Linked DNA regions of Homo sapiens. The protein of the gene in region 3 purifies or fractionates together with the protein of the main gene of each other region. This does not show direct contact. Each region holds a gene or a part of one and is shown on either strand. Other genes may lie near its edges.

The links.
Region 1: the proteins of SLC51A (region 3) and ANO6 purify together in Homo sapiens (affinity purification with mass spectrometry; 2 studies listed by BioGRID and IntAct, with this or other methods). This does not show direct contact.
Region 2: the proteins of SLC51A (region 3) and TMEM63A purify together in Homo sapiens (affinity purification with mass spectrometry; 2 studies listed by BioGRID and IntAct, with this or other methods). This does not show direct contact.

What each region holds. Positions count from the first base shown.
Region 1 is NC_000012.12:45,345,026-45,352,132, forward strand, and holds part of ANO6 (anoctamin-6), read left to right. Parts: intron 1-1,996; coding exon 1,997-2,062; intron 2,063-3,002; coding exon 3,003-3,290; intron 3,291-3,492; coding exon 3,493-3,606; intron 3,607-5,633; coding exon 5,634-5,749; intron 5,750-7,107. UniProt on the Homo sapiens protein: Small-conductance calcium-activated nonselective cation (SCAN) channel which acts as a regulator of phospholipid scrambling in platelets and osteoblasts.
Region 2 is NC_000001.11:225,851,292-225,858,398, reverse strand, and holds part of TMEM63A (mechanosensitive cation channel TMEM63A), read left to right. Parts: intron 1-1,381; coding exon 1,382-1,488; intron 1,489-1,660; coding exon 1,661-1,747; intron 1,748-2,458; coding exon 2,459-2,521; intron 2,522-4,607; coding exon 4,608-4,770; intron 4,771-5,629; coding exon 5,630-5,735; intron 5,736-7,107. UniProt on the Homo sapiens protein: Mechanosensitive cation channel with low conductance and high activation threshold. In contrast to TMEM63B, does not show phospholipid scramblase activity. Acts as a regulator of lysosomal morphology by mediating lysosomal mechanosensitivity.
Region 3 is NC_000003.12:196,212,439-196,219,582, forward strand, and holds the start of SLC51A (organic solute transporter subunit alpha), read left to right. Parts: upstream 1-4,095; 5' UTR 4,096-4,274; coding exon 4,275-4,312; exon of another isoform or gene 4,313-4,598; intron 4,599-4,623; exon of another isoform or gene 4,624-4,874; intron 4,875-5,403; coding exon 5,404-5,498; intron 5,499-6,225; exon of another isoform or gene 6,226-6,574; intron 6,575-6,919; exon of another isoform or gene 6,920-7,144. UniProt on the Homo sapiens protein: Essential component of the Ost-alpha/Ost-beta complex, a heterodimer that acts as the intestinal basolateral transporter responsible for bile acid export from enterocytes into portal blood. Efficiently transports the major species of bile acids (taurocholate).

The DNA.
Region 1 (7,107 bases), on a different chromosome or scaffold from region 3:
CATTTCTAGGCCATTTGCTTGTGTTTAGGGAAGTTATACCACTTGCTGGTTTCCTCTGCTACTCTATTGTATGTTCAAATTGCAGCCAATAGTTAAATGTACTATATCTGAACAGCTCTTAGAACAGTGTCTGGCATGTTTTAAGTACTGTACAACCATTTATTAAAGATATAAAAACAAAGCAATATCCTTTTTCTGATACTTCAACACAATACATCAGGGATTCCACTTGGACTCAAATGTAGCCAAATACCAGGTATATTCTTTTACTTTTTGACCTTTGGTCTTTTTCCTGCAGCTTCACCTACTTCTAGTTTATGGGATTTTTTTTATGTTCTAGGCCCTGTGCATAGCACAGCAACTCATCCCCACTCTGTCCCTTTAGAGTGGGCAGATCATGAGTATTGTTCCCTGGGTAAAGTGTCTGACTGCCAGACCCACTAGATGATCTCGACCTGGACCTAGCAGTTCCTCTCTGTCTTGTTAACTGCTGTGCTAAATATTCCACCCAGCGTTTTCAGCTGTCTTCAGTGTAAGGCTTGCCCCAAGTTACCTTTTGTCACTATTGGAAATGAAAATTCTACTTCATGTGCTTTATGTAGTTTAAATCATATCTTCACAAGACCCTAAAAAGGAAACAAGTGGGTTTTCTTAGTTCTACAGATGAAGAAAAATGAGGCATGGAGAGTTTAATTTTCTTGTCATGGGTCATAGAGTTGATGAATAATAAATCAGATTTTGAACCCAGGAAGTGTGGTTACAGAGCTCATTCTGGTCCATTTTGTGCTGCTGTAACAGAATTCCACAGACTAATTTATAAAGAACAGAAATTGATTGGCTCACAGTTCTGTAGGCTGGGAAGTCTGAGATCAAGGGGGCTGGCATCTGGTGAGGACTTTGTTGCAGTGTCACCCCCACGGTGGTGGGGGAGAGAGAGGTGGTAGGGAGAAACAAAAATGGGGCGGGGGGGTTAGAAACAAAAGGGGGCCAAACTTTTATAAGGAGCTCATTCCATGCTAATAAACTCCCTCCTGTGATAATGTCATTAATTTGTTAAGTCTGCCCTTGTGGCCTGATTACCCTTCAGTAGGCCCCACCTCTCAACACTGTTGCATTGGGGATTAAGTTTCTAACATGATTTTTGGGGGACATATTTAAACCATAGCAGAGCTTGTGTTCTTAACCTCTGTGTCTACTCATTTTCTTCATTTCACAAAGCAGTATAAACTGTTTTGTCATGAAAAGCATTCTTTTTAAAAGGTCAAACAAGTCTCCATCTTTGCATGCTTCCCTTACAACTTTGGGCACAGCTTGGCAAAAGCCTAGGCATCTAGAATTTAATATCCATAAGTGTAGTATATTCTGTATCTTTTGAAATGGCCATGTAATATAGATATCAATTTAGTTCACTATTTTTATGGATTTAGACATAGCTTCACAAACATCTCAGTCTTGCAGAGAGAAAAAAATTATCTGAATTTTGCCAAAATTGCCTGTGTTGTTTTATTGAATTTGGTCAAGATATGCAGGGATGACGCATACACATCCAGTAATTGAACCATTTGAATGTCTGGTATGGAAACCAAATTTTTAAAATCTGGAATCTTCAACTCTGAAAACTCGTATCAGTGAATAGGACTCAGAAAGCTCAATTTGTATGCTTTTATGAGCCAAAAAGTACGTGGGATTGTGTCAAAGCAGGATACTGTTATTTACCTCAGATGACTGAAACCACACCAGGACAGCCAAGGGCCTTCCAGGGTGCCAGGGCATCGAAGTACCCTCCACGGCATTCTCTTGGGGATCCAACACTTACATGTCACCAGCAGCAAGAGCTGCTTCATTTCTTCTATTCCATTTGCTTGACCAAATGCTGATGCATTTCTTTTTCAGGTCCACGCTAGTTTGATTTTGTTATTAATATTGTTTTAAAAAATGCCTTTTTCTGCCTTTGGTAAACTAAAGGTCTAACATATATTCCAACTTCTTTTGACAGAGGAAAAGACAAGCATACGAATCTAACCTTATCTGTCATGGCCTGCAGTTAGAAGCAACAAGATCAGTAAGTACTGGTCCCTTTTCAGCCCTCGGCTGACCACTGTTCTCGGGCAGCTTCGTGCCACTTGGAATACTTGGGTGACATTGGAAACATGCAGCCCTGGCCACATCTTAGTCATAGACTGGGAGAGGAGTCAATCAAAATCTGCATTGTGTAGGATGTATTCTTTTTTTCTGATCAAAACTAGCAGATCTTTTTTAATAGCCAACGAATTTTACAATGAATGCATGTATGAATGATTATTTTCTTTCTTTAAGAAACTTCTAAAAGCTTTTTTGTTATACAAAAAATAGTTTATGGTAAAAAATTAGAAAACATAAGAATAAGGAAAATAATCTGTATCTTAATTATCCATAAATAATTTTGCAGTCCTTCTGAGCTGTTTTACTCAAAAATATATATGTACACATTTTTTATCTTTCAAAAAGGAGAAAATTACCACTTCACAGTTTTATAATTTGCTTTTTCCCTTTAATATATAGCAAATGGATTTATGTCAATAAATATAATTCTTTGACATTTTTAACAGCCACATAATATGATATTGAACAGATAGACAATAAGTTCATTCGAGGTTTAGAAAATTAAAAATTTTTCATTATGCTAGCACTACAATGAATATTCTAGTGTTTTTACTTTAAGTCAATAATTAGGGTAGAGTGATAGACAAATAAGTTTGGTTTTCTTCATTTTATAAATTATTTTCATAGTTTTATGAACTATGATGATTTGAATTACTTCCTTAATGATTCAAACCAAGAAATCGTCTTTAAGACAAAAATTTATGATGGTTTGCAAATCTGTTTTTATTGTTATCTTCACTTTTAGTGGTGGTCTCTGTATTGTTTTTTTAAAGCTACCAACAACATAAGAAAAATCTATGTGTTTTAAAATTGTGAAAAGAGTTGGTTTCTTGTTCTGCGTTTTTATTTTTCCAATATAGGTATTGGATGACAAGCTTGTATTTGTAAAAGTACACGCACCATGGGAGGTGTTATGTACGTATGCTGAGATAATGCACATCAAATTGCCTCTGAAACCCAATGATCTGAAAAACCGGTCCTCAGCCTTTGGTACACTCAACTGGTTTACCAAAGTCCTCAGTGTAGACGAAAGCATCATCAAGCCAGAGCAAGAGTTTTTCACTGCCCCATTTGAGAAGAACCGGATGAATGATTTTTACATAGTTGATAGAGATGCTTTCTTCAATCCAGCCACCAGAAGCCGCATTGTAAGTCTAAACCAAATTTAGTTGCTGTCTTGGGGTAATTTGGAACCTGCTGTTTTGTGGTTTGGTTGGTTTGGTTTTATTTTTAAAAACTGCACAAAAAGAAAAGAAATATGCCAGCAGATTTGTGTTACAGTAGTAAACAATGATTGGATTGGTTAATTACACTATATAAACCGCATACTCTATTTTGGAATCTTTTTAGGTTTACTTCATCCTCTCTCGGGTCAAGTATCAAGTGATAAACAATGTTAGCAAGTTTGGGATCAACAGACTTGTAAACTCTGGGATCTACAAGGCAGCTTTCCCACTCCATGATGTAAGTTAAAAGGCAAAAATGAACTAAAAGGCCTTCTGTATACTCTGGTGTTGACAATAGCAAAGGGCTAACTTTCCTGACTGTAAGTTTCTTCCTCAGTAAAATGAAGGGAACATACTGCAAGATTACAAGCTCATTTAGGGTAAGAACTAGGTCTTTTGTTCACAGATGGATCCCAGTTATAAAGATACTCAGTTTTAAAGGAGCGAATGAATGAATGGACAGGACCTCTCTCACAGTTAATGTGTAAAGCAGTATAGATTAGCAGTTAATCTGTGTTAGCATTTCTGAGACCAAAATGCCTGCCCTGCCACTTTCTAGCTGGATGACCTTGTGAAAGTCATTTAGCCTTTCTTCCTCCATTTCCTCATCAATAAGCTGGGGATAAATTATTACCTACCTCCTAGAGTTGTTAAGAGGATTAAATTAATCCATTAAATTAATCCAAATGTTAGTCCCTAGCATATAATAAATACTATTATAAGTGTTAGCTGTTTTCATAATTACTAACAGATGTTATTATCAACCAGAAAAGATTAGTTCTTTGTCAGCAAAATACATGTTAGACCTTCTCATTTATCATTTTCTGCAACATAGACTTTTCTTCCTCATTTGGAATACGATTTTCAAACTGTCCCCTGGAATATCCCTGGGCTTTTAAAAAGGCATCTGTCAGGGTTGTTGTGACAATGGCAGTACCCCAGATGGTTGACATTTTTTTAAGGACTACATTCTGAGACCACAGCAACCCCTCAAATTCAAGAGTACTTCTCTAGCCGAGAACATCTCTCGTGAAATGAAATTTTTAAAATGTGACCACTGTAAATGCAGGGACATTATAACTAAAGCTGTTTAAACTCTGTCATTGAAATAAATTAAATACTATATTATATTGCATTATTACTTTGTTATATTCACTATCAATTTATCTGACTGTGTAAGACCAAAGAAAGTAAAGACTGAGATTGGTAATTGCTACTGTGTAGTACATGTATTTGTGGATAGAGACGATATTGAAATGTACTGAATAACATAATAAAACTAGGACACTAAACAGCAGCTTGATACACATGGAAAAGTAGAGAACAGGGAGCTGGGTGAGGTAAATACTGATCCTAAGAGACCCAATGTAGCCATCCAGCCTGAGAGTCCATGTGTTTTACTTTTGTGCCCCACTGAATTTAGCTAATTGCGAATAACAGGACATGAATTTTGAGGCCACTTGCAAATAGCTGTCACGAATATTAATTTGGGATGCCAGGGTTCTCTAACAGTTGACATTTGCTTTTGGCCATGTCTTTTCCACTAAAGCCTCTTCTAATTGCAGTGGTCCTGTATTCAGGCTAACAAATGGTCCCATGTGGTATTTGAGAGGGAGGTGTGTGAAGGTCAGGGCCTGTGCCCTGATTTGGCTGGGTGGTAATCTGGTTCTAGTGCCAGAAGAAGAAAAATGAGTCAGAAAAAAAGGCAACTGGATTTAAGCAGGAAGTTTTGTTTCTTGAATAAGCTAAGTGTGTAACATGATACCCAGCTTTATTGTTTGTTTTCTGTATGTTATCACAGAATAACTGCTGAACTGGGGGCAAAGAAGCCTAGGTTTTAGAATTGACCCTGCTGCTAACCAGCCAAGGCCTTGGTTTCCCCATTGTCCAAGGAGAGGGGTGGGTTATCACGTGTTCCTCTGGTGTGGTGATTTGGGCACTTGGGTGGCCCAATTTTTCATTGTGTAGGACTGCCCCACTTAAAGCATTTTAAGCATCTCTGGGGCCCTCACAGAGTCCCTGCAGTGCTCCCCAGGATTGTAACACCCAATCGTTCATCCCTGCCCACATTCATAAATGACCCCCAAGGAGGGTAGTACCATGCCTGGTTAAGAATCACTAAAAATTAGATGGTATTTCCACCCTTTCCAGAAGGTGAGGACCCCTTGTTCACAATTGACTATCAAGTATTTGTATCACATTTAAGAAGCAGATTTGTGAAAACACGATGATTATGGTGCTTACATGTTCCCTTCTGCGTCACAGTGCAAATTCCGCCGTCAGTCAGAGGATCCCAGCTGCCCTAATGAACGGTACCTTCTGTACAGAGAATGGGCTCATCCTCGAAGCATATACAAAAAGCAGCCCTTGGATCTTATCAGGTGAGGGGTTGTAGGGAGTACTCCAGGGGGAGGCACTCAGGGTGTTACCCCCACAGCATCTGAATGTGACAGTACTCATCAAGACTCTTGCCAGTGAAGGGAGCTGACCCAGAGTGCTGAGCTTCGTTGGCCAGGGTTTTTATTGAGGCTTAATTATGTGGGCATGATTAATTGAATCATTACCCATCTCCAGTATCATCCTCCCCCTGGAAGATGGCCAGTAATATGTGGCTCAAAGCTCCAGTTCTCCAATCACATGGTTGATCTTCTGGCATGGCCAGCCTCCACCCTGAGTCATCTCATTAGCACAAACTCTCTAGAGGTCCACCATGAGCCACTTCACTGGCATAAACTATCAGGCGTAGTCCTAGGGTCCCACTGTGAATAAAAAGGCACTCCTATCTCTCAGGAAGTTCCAAGGGTTTAGAGGTTACCCACCGCCCAGGAACTGGGATGCAGACCCACCAAATTCCATATTGCACAGAAGTAAATGTTAGATGTAGTTTCTATTGTATGGTAAGACATGTACATTTTCACTCTTTTCTTATGTCTGCCTCTAGGTTCTATTTCGTTGTATCTCACAAGATACAATGACTAGCTCAAGAGTTTTTCTTCCCAAGGTACCCTGTTGGTTTTCCTCCAGAAGCTTACGTTGTTTGGGCAGGGCTGAGGATTCTGGCTTGTGGGAGATAGACCAAGAACACCCAAACAAGCCAATAAAACATGAAAATAAATAAACAGAATTTCTAATGGAAGTGAAGAAAATAACAGAGCAATAGGATGGGAGGGCAGAGTGGGAAGTGAGTTGAGGGAGTTATCTTTGAGGAGGTGACTTTTAAGCTGAGATCGGATAGTGAAGAGGAGCCAGTGCTTTGAGGACTTGGCAGAAGTCCTTCTAGGAATAGGGGCAGCTTGTACAGTGGCCCTGAGATGCACACACATTTGGCAAGTTTGAGGAAACATCAGAGACCAGTGCTAGTGAGAAACAGAGCAAGACATGAAGTTAGAGGGGTGGCAGGAGCGCCGAAAAGAGTTTAGACTTTAATTGCAGTGAGAAGCAGTTGTAATATTTTAAATGTTTAAGTCATTGTATCCTATTCACGTTTTGCAGATAATGTGGAGAATGGATTATAAGGGGTACAGGGAGCAGGGAGACCACTAGGTAGGAGGCTGTTTGAGCCAGGCAGAAGACTGTGGGAGCAGATTTGGGATGTGTTTGGGGAGTCGGGTCGACAGGACTTGTTTATGGATTGGATGTGGAGAGTGACGAGGAGAGGAGAGTTAACTTCATGTCTGTCTGGAGCCACGTACCTGTTTTTTTATGGTGTCTCAACACCCCATGCACTTGCCACCTACTT
Region 2 (7,107 bases), on a different chromosome or scaffold from region 3:
AGCCGAGATTGCACCACTGCACTCCAGCCTGGGCGACAAGAGCGAAACTCCATCTCAAAAAAAAAAAAAAAAAAAAAAAACAAACTATTCTGTATAGGTAATGAACGATTTTCAAAAATCTTAGATGAATCAATGAGATAACAGCCAAACACTCACTCAACTGGCATCTACTCAAAAAGCTATTGGTTTCTCATGATTAGCTTTGCCAAACCATCTCCCTAGATTATTTTTCTTTTTAAATTTCACTTTGCATTTGGTTAATCATTCCCTGGGAAAGCACACGGGGCAGGTGGGCCTCCTTGTCTTCACTTTGCCATTCCCTATCTGATGAATTCTGAACCTCAGTTTTTCATCCAAGAACTGGAGTTAAAACACCTGCACTATTATACAGGGCGTGAGGCTGTTGTCATGATAATCAATGAGCTGATGTGTGGTTGAAGCTCTTATCTGACTCCATAGATAGTTTTAAACTACCTAAGTATAAATTCAGCAGCTTTGCTTAAGATTTAAAGCAGGTATTATAAATATGCATTCCTTTGCCAATCTTTTAATAGAAGGACAGGCCTATTCTTTTGAAGATGGATCTGCTGATGAGAGCTCCCCTTTGTCTACTTTACATCAACCACACCCTTATTTCATTGTTTTGTGATTCCAGTGTTGGTTTCTTTAAAGTAAAGGAAGAATTTAGATATTTGCCGAGCCATTCTGAATATAGAAACTTCCTAGATCGCATATCCCTTGATCTTTTATCGTTAATTTACTCTCATCTAATTAACAGCGTTTTGTTTTTTTTTTTAGAAATTGACTTTTATTAAGTCTTTCCAAAGTAGCCAACTTAGTTTTCAAAGAAAATTTCTCTCTATTTTTATGTTCATCTAATCAGTGACAGTAATAAGTCAATCAGCTCATGTAATCCCAGTAACAAACAGCAGGATTGTGGACACACACAGTGGAGCCCTGATATGCTGCAGCTGGACAGTGGGAGCTGAGCAGGCAGGGCACCCCCCCCCCCCCGCCCCGCCGGCCAGGACTCCAGGCCTTCGGTGTTCAGTCTTGCCATGGCATCAGTCATTGGTTTTGTATAGGGAGCAGAGAAGGTTATTTAATCTGGTTAGTCAGATAAGTGGAGTTTACTCGTATGTGAAATTGCTTTCTTTGCTGTGCTGTGAGGAGCTGTACAAATATAAGGTGCTGTTACTGATTATTCAGCCAACATTTATGGACTACCAACTCTGTACCTGGCACAGTTTTGGTTCTGGGGTCAGAGATGACAAACTCCTACCCTGGGAGTCCACTGAGCGACCATACCAATAGGTCATGGCCTCAGAGCCGCGTGGCCCACGGCCCCTGTGACTCTCTCTGCTGTGGACCTTTCTCCTAGAACCCGATCATCAGCCAGTTCTTCCCCACCCTCCTGCTCTGGTCCTTCTCGGCCCTGCTCCCCTCCATTGTCTACTACTCTACACTGCTGGAGTCTCACTGGACCAAGTGAGTGCCCGGGAGCCCCGAGGCCCTGCCCCTAAGAAGGATATCTCTGACCGCTCCCTTGTCCACACCCTAACCCCCCAGCTGCTCAGGCAGTGGGCACATGGCAGGGGCCTCACTGGGGGCACATAGAGCATTTGGGGGACTGCGAGTGCTCACCTTTGACTTCCTGCAGGTCGGGGGAAAACCAGATCATGATGACCAAAGTCTACATATTCTTGATCTTCATGGTGCTGATCCTGCCCTCCCTGGGTCTCACCAGGTATATGCCACCACCTTCTGCTCTAAATTCAGAATAAGAGTCACATCAGGAGAGCACTGTCCCCAGGAGAATGCAAACGGTTTGGCAGCAGAAGCAAACCTCTAACAATATCTAAGCCTGTCGCAACCACTCGGCGTGCAGTAGGGCTGGGTCATTGATTCTTCTGGCAATATGATTGATTGTTCTTCTTTAAAAAAGAAAAAAACACCATATTGGTCAGGCTGTTCTTGAGCTCCTGACCTCAGGTGATCCACCCGCCTCGGCCTCCCAAAGTGCTGGGATTACAGGCGTGAGACTCTGTCTCAAAAAAAAAAAAAAAAAAAACCAGCTTGAAAATTTTGTGGCCAGGCACAGTGGCTCACGCCTGTAATCCTAGCATTTTGGGAGGCCGAGGTGGGCAGATTGCTTGAGCCCAGGAGTTCCAGCCTGGGCAGTCTGGCGAAACCCCATCTCTACAAAAGAGAAAAGAAAATGAAACTTATCAAGGACCTTCCACTTAGGGAAGGCCTCATCATGGCTTTATTTATCTCAAGGAAGGAAGTTTCTGTTAAAGCAGACTGTGACAGGTCATGCCGTAGTAAGTGGCATCGTTGAGAACAAAAGTCAATCTCGAGCTTTGGCCTGTTTTTAGAGCAAAAGAAAATGAAAGCATGTGTAGTGACAATATGGAATGCTGGAAATAAACTCTTAGGGGGTTCCTTTGTTTTTCAGTCTAGATTTTTTCTTCCGGTGGCTCTTTGACAAAACTTCCTCGGAGGCCTCCATCAGGTTGGAGTGAGTATTGCCAAGTTGAGTTCTGGAGCCATGGCCCTGGGTGAAAGTCCCACAGGGGCTGGGGCTGCAGTGGGATGGGTGGGGGCGGTCGTAGCCTATGCTTCTGAACAGGCATCTTCCTCCCCAGACAGCAGGGCTTGGGGCCTCACCTCCACCCTGCCAGGTTTCTGGTAGACACTGTGGGAGCTGACCCACTTTGTGCTATGCTTGCAGAAATGTGGTTAATTTTTTAGGCCAGAACTCAATTAGCAGCTGTCTCATTCATTGAAACTTACTGAGCACAGAGTCACATGGGGAGAAGGAATTGCTGGGTCTCAGTGGTGCCAGGGAGTGGGGAAAGGAGAATAATAATTAAAGATGGCAGCCAGGATGCCTCTGGGCTCTGGGGATTATTTTTGCCAGAATAGAATTAAATTTATTACTGATGTATCCTTGTTAGTATTTTAAACTTATACCATGCCACTTAATAGTAATAGCTATTGTTTAAGAAGGCACTATGCTAAATGCTTTATGCATCTTTTTCTCACTGTATCTTTACAATGAGCTATGAGGAAGATACTATTATTCTCTCCATTTTACAGATGAGGAGACTGAGGTTTGGAGACGTTGAATAACTTGCCCAAGTTTATCCAGCTGGTTAAGGAACAGAGCTGGGATTCAACCCCAGCCCCTACAGACTATACATTAGGTCTTAATATAGGTCCAGAGGCTTGGCATTGACTTTCCTAAAAGAATGTGCTTACCTGTAAGGATGGGGCGAGTTATTTTAAATGAGTTCTTGCTGAGTAAGCTGATGAGTTGGGAGCTGATGACTGTGACAGACACACATACATACAGCCAGCAATAGTCTAGGTTGACAGTGACTTTCAGATTGACAAGTCCAGTGACCAGCTCAATCCTCATCTTATGATCTATCAGCGACATCTGACACATTTATCCGAGCCTTCCTCCTCGAAGCTCGGCCTTGGGTCTCTCATCTCGCAGCATCCTCTTGTCACCCTCCTTGGTGGGTTCTCTCCCATCTCCCCAACTCTAGATTTTGGCTGCCTGAAGGCTCAGCCCCCAGTTCTGGGTCCACACTGCCTCTCTAGGTGACTTCAGCTGAACCCACGGCTTCCATGCCATGATACTGCTCCTGAATTAACTTATGCGGACAACATCCACATTTATGCCTCTAGCCTGCACCTCCAGGCTGGTAACCCAACTGCCCACCTCAAACTCTAGCTGGAGTTTTACTGGGTACCACGGATGTTACCTGCCCAAAACCAAACTCTCGACTTTTACCCTCAAATCTGCTACTCTACAACTTTCCCCATTCCATATTGTTTTTCTACTTGTTTTGGCAAAAAACCTCAAAGTTCACCTTGTTTCCTTTCTATCCCTCCCATGCCATACCCAGCCTACCAGAAAATCCTGACAACTCTCTCTAAAGTAGATCCAGAATCCCTTCATATCTCACCACCTCCATCACAACCGCCCTCATCCCACATGGGGATGACACAGTGGCCATCTGTGTAGTCTCCCTGACCCCATTGGAACAGATCCCTTGTCCTGGGCTGGCCCCCAGCCCCTTTCAGCCTTGTCTTCTGCCTCCCCTCGCCCACTGCTGTCCAGCCCCTGGATGTGCAGCAGACGAGGACATCCTCAGGTGTCTTGTATGTTGTTCCCTTTCCCTGGAATCCTGTCTTCCCAGGTTTGGGGATGACTTGCTCCTTCACCTCTTCACATTTCTGCACGAATATCACCTCGTTAGAAAGGCTCCTCCAACCCCTGTATGACATAGGAACCCTCCCTGCTTTGTTTTCCTCTAGTGCTCACCGTCCCCAGCAGATGGAATATTTGTTTGTCTGCTTGTTTGTGCCCCCAGCTAGAATGTGAACTTCAAGAGAGTGGCGCAGGGGCTTTGTTCTATTCTCAGTGCCTAGAAAGGTGCTTGGCACACAGATGTGTTTCCCAAATATGTGCTGAATGAACGGAAGAGTATACAGCCCTCCCAGGGGCTTTCTGCTCCTGCCCAGCCTAGGGGCCCCTCCTCTCCCTCCAAGAGCGGCTCTCAGCTCACAGACCTGGGCCCTGGTTTCCCCAGGTGCGTCTTCCTGCCTGACCAGGGTGCCTTCTTTGTGAACTATGTCATCGCCTCGGCCTTCATCGGCAATGGCATGGAGCTGCTGCGGCTGCCAGGTCTCATCCTCTATACCTTCCGCATGATCATGGCCAAGACGGCTGCTGACCGCAGGAATGTCAAGCAGGTGCCATCCCCTGGGCCCAGGGCTGTGCCTCTGACTCCCTCCCATGTCCCCCTTCACTGACCCGAGGGCCTCTCACCCCCACTACCCCCACTAGTGGGTAGCATTTACCTGACTACCCACTAGTGCAGGCACTGGGCTAAGTGCTTCTCAAACCCGGGTCCAGGCAGGCGTGGCCTCCTCCAGCCTCCTCTCTAGCTCACAGGCTGGAGGAGAGAGCTTGGGACTTTGGCATTTGAAACGGTTTGATCGCACACATACATACATACAACTCAAACCAACAGACTCTTTTTCTGTAGGCACCCATTTGCATAAATTCTTAGCCAAACCCCAGATGTCAAAGGCATTTTCGGCTTGTGGCATTTATTCCAGGATTCCCTGAACTGGAGGGTGTGGCTTTCTCTTTTATTCTCCTCTGCCATGGTGGGCACTGTGCGAGGAAAGTGGGAGAAGTGCTGCATTCCTTCATTTCATTCTCAGCCCCCTTATGAGCTGGGCACTGCTAGTATCCCGATTTCACAGAGGCATGAACTAAGCTGGCCCAGGATCCCCTGCTAGAAGGGCTGGAGTCACTCTACACCTCTTCCCTGACCACCTCTTCCCTCCAGGGGCTCACATGCCTGTTGGGTGGAACGAAGGGAGCACTAGCAAACACGCATCACCATGCCTCGGGAGGGCTGGGTGCACTGAGTGAAGCAGGGCAGGCTGGGAGGGATGGGAAGGACCTTGGGAGGCGGGGAGCCACGCATCTCCTATTTCCAAAGTCCTCCTCCACCCTGCTCTCCCATCACCACTTAGAGAGCACAAAAGGGTGTTTGAGGTGGAACAAGTCCATGAGCTCCTCACCACCTCCTCCTCCCAGAACCAGGCCTTCCAGTACGAGTTTGGAGCCATGTATGCATGGATGCTGTGTGTCTTCACTGTCATCGTGGCCTACAGCATCACTTGTCCCATCATCGCGCCATTTGGTGAGTGGCCCTGGAGCCTGTCCCAGGGTACATGGGTACATGGACGGCTGATTGCACCAAACCTCTCGGGGACAGCTATCACCAGGGCACAATGGAGTTCCCAAAACCACAGCCACAAGAGCCACAAGCTGCTAAAGACTCACGTGACACCAGATTTCACTCATTTCTTTCTTTTTTTGTTTTGAGACAGGGTCTCATGCTGATGCCCAGGCTGGAGTGGCATGATCTTGGCTTACTGCAACCCCCACCTCCTGGGCTCAAGCCATCCTCCCATCTCAGCCTCCTGAGTAGCTGGGATTACAGGTGCCCGCCACCATGCCTGCCTAACTTTTTGTATTTTTAGTAGAGATGGGGTTTCACCATGTTGGCCAGCCTGGTCTTGAACTCCTGACCTCAGGTGATCCACCCGCCTCAGCCTCCCAAAGTGCTGGGATTATAGGCATGAGCCACAGCACCCGGCCTCATTCATTTTTAAATGAATTCCTCCCACTGGCCCTCAGCTAGGACCTCTCTTAGTATTTCTGGTCTGAGGTTCTCTGCCCACTGACTATGTCGTTCATGGTTGATTTCTTTAGCAGCAAGTAAGACAGTGCCAGAGTCACAATCAAAGCTCTCGTGCTGCTTTCACTCTGGCAGATGCCTGCCTCCACGTGGATTACCACATTTCTCACCTCATCCTACAAGGCAGTTCCTGTTTCTATTCCCCCTTCACACAAAATAACTTCGTATGTTGTTAGTAAGCAGGAGAACCAGCCTTTGAACTCAGGACTGTTTAAAGACCAAGGTCCTGGCCACTGAAATAAAACATCTGCAACTGGCAGATTAATGAAAGGCTCTAGAAGGAAACAAAAAACCCAAGAGACTGCTGGCAGTGATAGCTGAGTTTTAGGGGGAAAAGTTGTTTTAGTTTTCCCTGTATACTTTCTTGTGTAGTTTTAAAAATCTACAGTATTTACACTTTCAAAACAAAATTTATTTTTTAAAAAAGAACCTGGGGCTGGGCACGATGGCTTATGCCTGTAATCCCAGCACTTTGGGAGGCCTAGGCAGTGCATCACCTGAGGTCAAAAGTTCAAGAACAACCTGGCCAATATGATGAAACCCTGTCCCTACTAAAAATACAAAAATTAACTGGGCATGGTGGCAGGCGCCTGTAATCCCAGCTACTCGGGAGGCTGAGGTAGGAGAATCACTTGAACTCAGGAGGCAGAGGTTGCAGTGAGCCAAGATTGCACCAGTGCACTCCAGCCTGACCAATGAGCGAGACTCCATCTCAAAAAAAATAAAAAATAAAAAAACAAAAGAACCTGGCATAATAGAAAAGGCAGCACCCACTTTCTGTTGGTCCCCTGTGTGCTCCTGTGCCACCCCT
Region 3 (7,144 bases):
CGCTGTTTAAGAGGCCAAGGCCAAAAGAATAAGCTCCAGACACCCCTCGCCTCCAGAGCAAAGTTGAAGAAAAAAAAGAAAGACAAATTCTTTGACTGTTACTCCTTTCCCAGGTTTCTTAAGCATGATTATGTTTTACAAATGTCTGTATTTAGCCAGTTCTTGTTTTTCTTTCAATGCAGCTACAAAGTCACCAGCTATGCAAGGCCACAAGTTATGCTATAGATGATGTGACCTGTCATATGATTAACTACTTTTATTTATTGGAAGTCTGCTTATAAAAACCCCGCTCTGTCTTTGTTCGATGCTCAGCTTTTTAGATGACAGTCCACTAAGCCAGTGCGTACCTGAAATAAACAGTCCTCTCGTTCTCTGTCTCAGTCTTGCCAGTCCTCAGTTTCCTGCAACATCTCTACTAAAAATACAAAAATTAGCCAGGTGTGGTGGTGCGCACCTGTAATCCCAGCTACTCGGGAGCCTGAGGCACGAGAATCGCTTGAACCTGGGAGGCGGAGGTTGCAGTGAGCCGAGATCTCACCATTGCACTCCAGCCTGGGAAACAAGAGTGAAACTATGTCTCAAAAACACAGAATAAAAGAAAAGAAAAGATTATGCAAAATGGAAGAAACTAGGCACAAAAAGCCACATATTGTATGGTTCCACTTACATGAAATATCCAGAGTAGCCAAATCCATAGAGATCAAAAGCAGATTCACAGTTGCCAGGGTGTGGGAGGAGGGGGACTGGAAGAGATGAGGTTTGTTGTTGTTGTTTTGAGACTGAGTCTCACTCTGTCGCCCGGGCTGGAGTGCAATGGCACCATCTCAGCTCACTGCAATCTCTGCCTCCCGGGTTCAAGCAATTCTCTTGCCTCAGCCTCCCAAGTAGCTAGGATTATAGGCACCTGCCACCATGCCCAGCTAATTTTTTTTTTGTAGTTTTAGTAGAGACGGAGTTTCACCATGTTGGCCAGCCTGGTCTCGAACTCCTGACCTCAGGTGATCCACCCACCTCAGCCTCCCAAAGTACGGGCATTACAGGAGTGAGCCACTGCACTCGGCCTAATTTTTGTATTTTTAAGAGATGGGGTTTCACCATGTTGGTCAGGCTGGTCTCGAATTCCTGACCTCAAGTGAGCCACCTGCCTCGGCCTCACAAAGTGCTGGGATTACAGGTGTGAGCCACGGCGCCCAGCCTCTTTTTTGATTTTTCAAAACTGACTCTCATATTAAGGAAGCCAAAACTTAAGTGATAACTGAAATGATCGTGTTACTGACCACAGGTTCTTTAGGCTCCGATAAAAATTGACACGAGGCCAAGCAAATTTCCCAGACAAGGCTTTATTAGGGGCTTCCGTTCCACCACGGGGGAGACAGCACCGCAGGGAGAGGTCTCCGGCTGGCTCCCCAGGGGACTGCGTTGTGGCGTCTCGAGGAGGGCGACACGCGTAATTCATGAGGTAGGTGAGCGTCCCTGCAGGAGTGACAGAACGCACAGGGATAGTTAGGAATCGCGGTAACACATACATCGCAGGATCAGAACACGACGAGAAAGCCTCTCCCTGGCAGAGGCTTTTGTTTTGTTTCTGTCTGTCACCCAGTCTGGAGTGCAGTGACAAGATCTCGGCTCCCTGCAACCTCCGCCTCCCAGGTTCAAGCGATTCTCGTGCCTCAGCCTCCCGAGTAGCTGGGATTACACCACCACACCTGGCTAATTTTTGTATTTTTAGTAGAGACGGGGTTTCACCTTGTTGGCCAGGCTGGTCTCAAACTCCTGACACCTCAGGTGATCCGTCCGCTTCGGCCTCCCAAAGTGCTGGGATTCCAGGTGAGAGCTGCCGCGCCGAGGCAGAGGTCTTGGTCTTGTAATGAGGCCGAGGGTAAAGAGTGGTCGTGCTTCCGGCTTCCTGCACACAAAGGCAATGGAGTTCATTCCCTGAAGTACAAGATTGGAAGTGCGACGCTGCCTATCTTCATTTTTCAAGGTCGTGTGATCAGTGGATGTGGCATTTTGTGTAAGATTTACAGTGGAATGCTGCTTATCTTAATGCTTTCACTGTCCTTCAATGAGCAGGTAAGAAAAAAAAAGGAAGAAAGAAAAATGTTGGGGGGGGGAATGCATTAGCGAATGCATTAGTGGAGTTGGCAGCCGAGTCCCATCCCTCCTCTGTCTCAATAAGTGTCAGATGATGCTATCATATAATTTTGTGGGAAAAAATAGGCCAAAGAAATGAAATTCAGAAGGACTTATTCTTTTTGGTTCTAAAATCAGTTTCTGAGAGCTGGCAGGCCCCAACTGCCAAGAGGAGACCCTGGCGGCCACAGCTCATCCTCTCTGACCAAGCCTTAGCTGGGGATGGGCCGGCCTCCAGGCAGGGCCTCCCGCTGGCTGGATCCCGGGCCACACTGTACAGAAGACAACCCCGTAGAGACCTTGGGTGGGGCAGAAGCCCCCTTCCCTCACTGACACCCTGCCGGTCTCTCCTGGGGTCTCCCAGTCTCTGCTGCCCAGTGGGGAAGCACCCGTCTCAGCCCAACCGCAGCCCCCCCCGGCTCCCTCCTGCCCTTTCACCTTTCCTGCCATTCCCCACTGTGTCCTGAAGTTTCTAAGAACATCCCCAGCGCCCTGTTGTCAGCTCTGGGAAGTCTAAAGTTCAGGGCTTTGGGTAATTAAACCCAAGGCCTCTCAGTGGGCTGGGGGTGAATGACCTGGCGAACGTGCCTGCGGAGATGCTGGGAGGAAGCTGAGTCAGTCTGCGTCTTTGTCAGGGTGGGCTGAGGCCAGTGACCCTCTGGGGGTCAGGGCCCTTGCAGGCCTCTTCCTTCCCTGACCTCCACCTTAGGAGGCAGCTGGCCCCTGAGACGCCTGCCTCACGACATTGTCCTGTCCCAGGAACTGGACTTTAGGAGGAGGGGAAGCTGGAGGGGGATGCAGCTTGACTCTTGGGAGAGACTTTGAGGTGTCTGGGCACAGGAGTGGGGAGTCCTCCGGGTACCCCATCAGGGACTGCTTCCACTGCTTGTATGGCCTCACCAGCCCAGCGCAGGAAGCCCCCTCTCCCTTCCCAGAATTGACCCTCTGCACCCTCTCCTGGGCCCTCTTCTCACTACCTCCATCTCCACCATGCCCCAACAGAGCCCCTCCCCCAGGCCCCTTTGGCCGCTCTCCACACCCCACAGCTTTCTGTCTGACCTGGTTTCTTAGCCTCTCTGGACCTCAGCCTCCTTATCTGTAAAATGGGAATAAGGATACTACTTCCCTTGTAACGCGGTGGTAAAGTTTAAATAAGCTAAGGAACACACTGCATGTCCTGCGGGCCCTGGCACACCAGACATGCTGACAGACGCTGGCTGCTTTCATCAGCTATGCAACCAAATTCTAAGGGGCCCTTCGTATGTGTCAGGCTGCGTGCCAGGAACCTAGAGGTACCACCGTACCACAGTACAAGATGCTGTGTCTGGCTTCGAAGAGATTTCAGTCTATGTGGAGAGAGAGAAAAGGGAAGCTATCAGCCAATAAAATCGTTTGCAAGCCTGTAATTCAGCAGGTTTTCAAGACCTGTCAAATGCCCAGCAATCTCACTCTGCAACTCTGCCTCTTAAATACAGCATCTTCCGGCCCAGCGTGGGGGTGGCTAAGCCCATCATCCAGATGTGATGAACTGGGGTCTGGGAAACCCACACCGGCCTCATCTGGCTTTTCCAGCCTGTCCTCCCTTCCACACATCAGGCTGACAGCACCAAACACGGCCGAGGCCTCAGCCCTGAGTCTCCCCGCTGCAGAGTGCCCAAGCCTGAGTTCCAGCAGGTTCTTCAGGGGCCGCTGACCAGGGAACACTGCGGTGAGGAGCGAGGACTTCGTCCCCACCCCGGCCCAGGGCAGGGGCTTCGTGGTGAGCCCACCCCACCCCAGAAGGCTCCTGGAAGGGCAGGGCAGACTGGCAGCAAAATCCTATAGGATGGGCCGGGCCAGAGGCAAGGGGTGGCCAAAGGCACCTGTCCAAGAGGTGGGAGGGACCACACCTGGGGGCAGGGACGAGTCAGGCACAGGGAACTCCGCCAGCCTAGAGGATCAAATTCCTCCGGGGTGAACTCTGAGATAGAAAGTTGGCCCGGGAAGCTCAAGGAGGGAGAGCGGCAGAGGGGAAGACTCTGCAATTCTGCTTGCCCCCCACCCCGGCCCAGGCAAGCCACCCTGCCCCCGGCCCCCACCTGCCCGCCCCGCCTGCCCTTCCTCACCCCGGTGCCTGCGGGATTGCTGGAGAGAACGCGGCGATGGAGCCGGGCAGGACCCAGATAAAGCTTGACCCCAGGTAAGTGAGGGCGGCGGGCCCTGGGCCAGTCGCTGGGCAGCGGTGGCCCCTATCCCGCGGCCTGTCCTCTCTCCCTCCCAGAGCCCTTTGGCGGCCGCACTCAGAATGAGACAGGACTGGAAATGCTCTAGCTGTTCCTAGGTCCTCAGGGACAACGTGGGTTTGGGCCAGGGTGTGACACTCCAGGGCCTCGGCCTTGCCCCCCAGCGTGGGGAGAGAAAGGTCGCAGAGCGGGGGCTGTGGAAGGCATTCGCAGAGGAAATGGCAGCATCCCTCAGCAGCAGGGGGCCCGTCCGTCTGTAAGGACTCACCCTTCCTCTGGGATCCTGCTCTTCCTCTCTGGTCAGTCCCTGGGCTGCTGCCCGACCCGCATGGAGAGAATCCACGGTGGGCTCTTCAGGCACGGCAGCCAGGCACAGCCTGGCTAGGTGGCAGCTTGTCTTACTCCCCCACCTGGGCCAGTTCTCCACTCCCTCTAAGAAAAGGGCCCTGAGGCCGGGCGCCTGTAATCCCAGCACTTTGGGAGGCTGAGGCGGGAGTCCAGGAGTTTAAGCCCAGTTCCAGTTTGAGTCCTGGAGTTCGAGACCAGTGTCTGAGCAACATGGCGAAATCCTGTCTCTACCAAAAATATAAAAAATTAGCCGGGCCTGGTGGCGTGCACCTGTAGTCCCAGCTTACTCATGGGGATGGGGGTTGAGTAGATCACTTGAGCCCAGGAGGTCAAGGCTGCCTGTATGAGCCAAGACAGACCACTGCACTCCAGCCTGGACAACAGAGCAAGACCCTGTCTCAAAAAGAAAAAAAAAGAAAGAAAAAGGAAGGAAGGAAGGAAGGAAAGAGAAGGGGAAGGAAGAGAGAAAGAGAAAGAGAGAGCAGAAGGAAGGAAGGAAGGAGAAGGGGAAGGGGAAGGGAGAGAGAAAGAGAAAGAGAGAGTGAAAGGAAGGAAGGAAGGAAAGAAAGAAAGAGAGAGAAAGAGGCCCTGAGGGGAAATGGACAAAGTCCTGCACTCAGGAGTGGTTGAGGGTCCAGTGTGCAACCCTCCCCCTTCCCCCAGCCCCCATGGTTCTGAGCACAGGCTGGTGTCTCGCCAGGTACACAGCAGATCTTCTGGAGGTGCTGAAGACCAATTACGGCATCCCCTCCGCCTGCTTCTCTCAGCCTCCCACAGCAGCCCAACTCCTGAGAGGTGAGTGGGGACCCTCCTCAGAGGGAACTGAGAGGAGGGAAACCAGGATAGCTGAGTGGAGCTGGGGAGAGGCGGCCCTGAGCTGGTGCACCTGGGCAGCCGGGGAGAATAACTGGCCCGGTGTCTGTCATCGTGGTTAAGGCTCTGGAGAAGGGCAATGCCTCAAGGAGTCAGTGGGTCAAAAGGGTAGCATGAGAGCCTGGCTCCGGAGAGCAACCGTCATGTTGGGCCTCCACAAAACTGGCCTCAAAGCTCATTCAAACTGCGGACACTGCGACCTGGGGCGCTTTTTCAGACCCCAGAGCCATCTGGGGACCCAAGATGGTGCCCAAGTGGTCCAAGCCCCATCGGGTCTCCTGGAGGGCTGCACGGCATCCGCCCTGGACCCATGTCACTCTAGAGGGTGGTTACGGTGAGTGACGTGCTTCACACAGGTGAACCAGTTGTATTTGTTTTACGATCCAGCCTTTCTGAAAAACCTTTGTCCTCACTGGAGCATTCTGTTGTCGGGTTTTTGTGTGTGTGTTTGTGGGTATTTGCCTCATTCCACCCCTGAGCTCTCAGGTGGACAGATGGGATTCAAAAACCTGTTCTACAGTGTTTATTGTAGTGGAGTAATTTGTTTGCAATAATAAGTCATAATTGTCCACTGAAGGGGAGGGTGTGGGGATCCCCGAGGCCAGCTCAAGTTCAGCTGTTGGAAGAATTCCTTGACTGGAAATTTTACCTTTGCGTTTTGTCGCTCTGTTTCCTGAAGATAACTTGGGGTGCTCCTGGTCGTCCATCTACTGCTTTGATTCCTTGGATCCCACCCATTCTTTCACTTTAAGAAAAAACAAGTAATTGTTGCAGAGGTCTCTGTTTTGCAGCTTCCCTTTTGCAAGAAGCACTTTTTCCAAATAAAACAGTAATTAAAAAAAAAAAAACATAGGTGAACCTGCAAAAGTCCTCGCAGTGTTGGCCAACAAGATTCTATTACTGAATTACTTTTGAAAGTGAAAGGCATTGGCTGGGAGCGGTGGCTCACGCCTGTAATCCCTGCACTTTGGGAGGCCGAGGCAGGTGGATCACTTGAAGCCAGAAGTTGGAGACCAGCCTGGCCAACATGGTGAAACCCCGTCTCTACTGAAAATACAAAAATTAGCCAGGCGTGGTGGCGGGCACCTGTAATCCCAGCTACTCGGGAGGCTGAGGCAGGAGAGTTGCTTGAACTCGGGAGGCGGAGGTTGCAGTGAGCCGAGATCACGCCACTGCACTGCAGCCTGGGCAACAGAGTGAGTGAGACTCCGTCTCAAAAATAAAAGAAAAAAAAGGAAAAGAAAAAGAAAGTGAAAGGCATAGGATGGGGCTCAGCTTATTCCCCGGACACCAAAAACATTGAGAATCACGGCCCGAGCATGCTTAGAGAAAATGTGACTCACGCCTGCGTTTTATTTTGTTTTCCTGCTGCATACTGACTACCTCTGAAATGTTGGATACAAGTCTGTGTCTCTGTAGCACATTTAACACGTTTCCCAGGCAACAGGAAGCTCTCAGTGTGCGTTCTGTTGCAGACGTGGGCGTGTCCTTGGGCTGTGTAGGGCTTCATTTCAGATGATCTGAACCAGAGCGGTTGCCAACTGCCAGTGTCCGGAGATGCCTGGTGG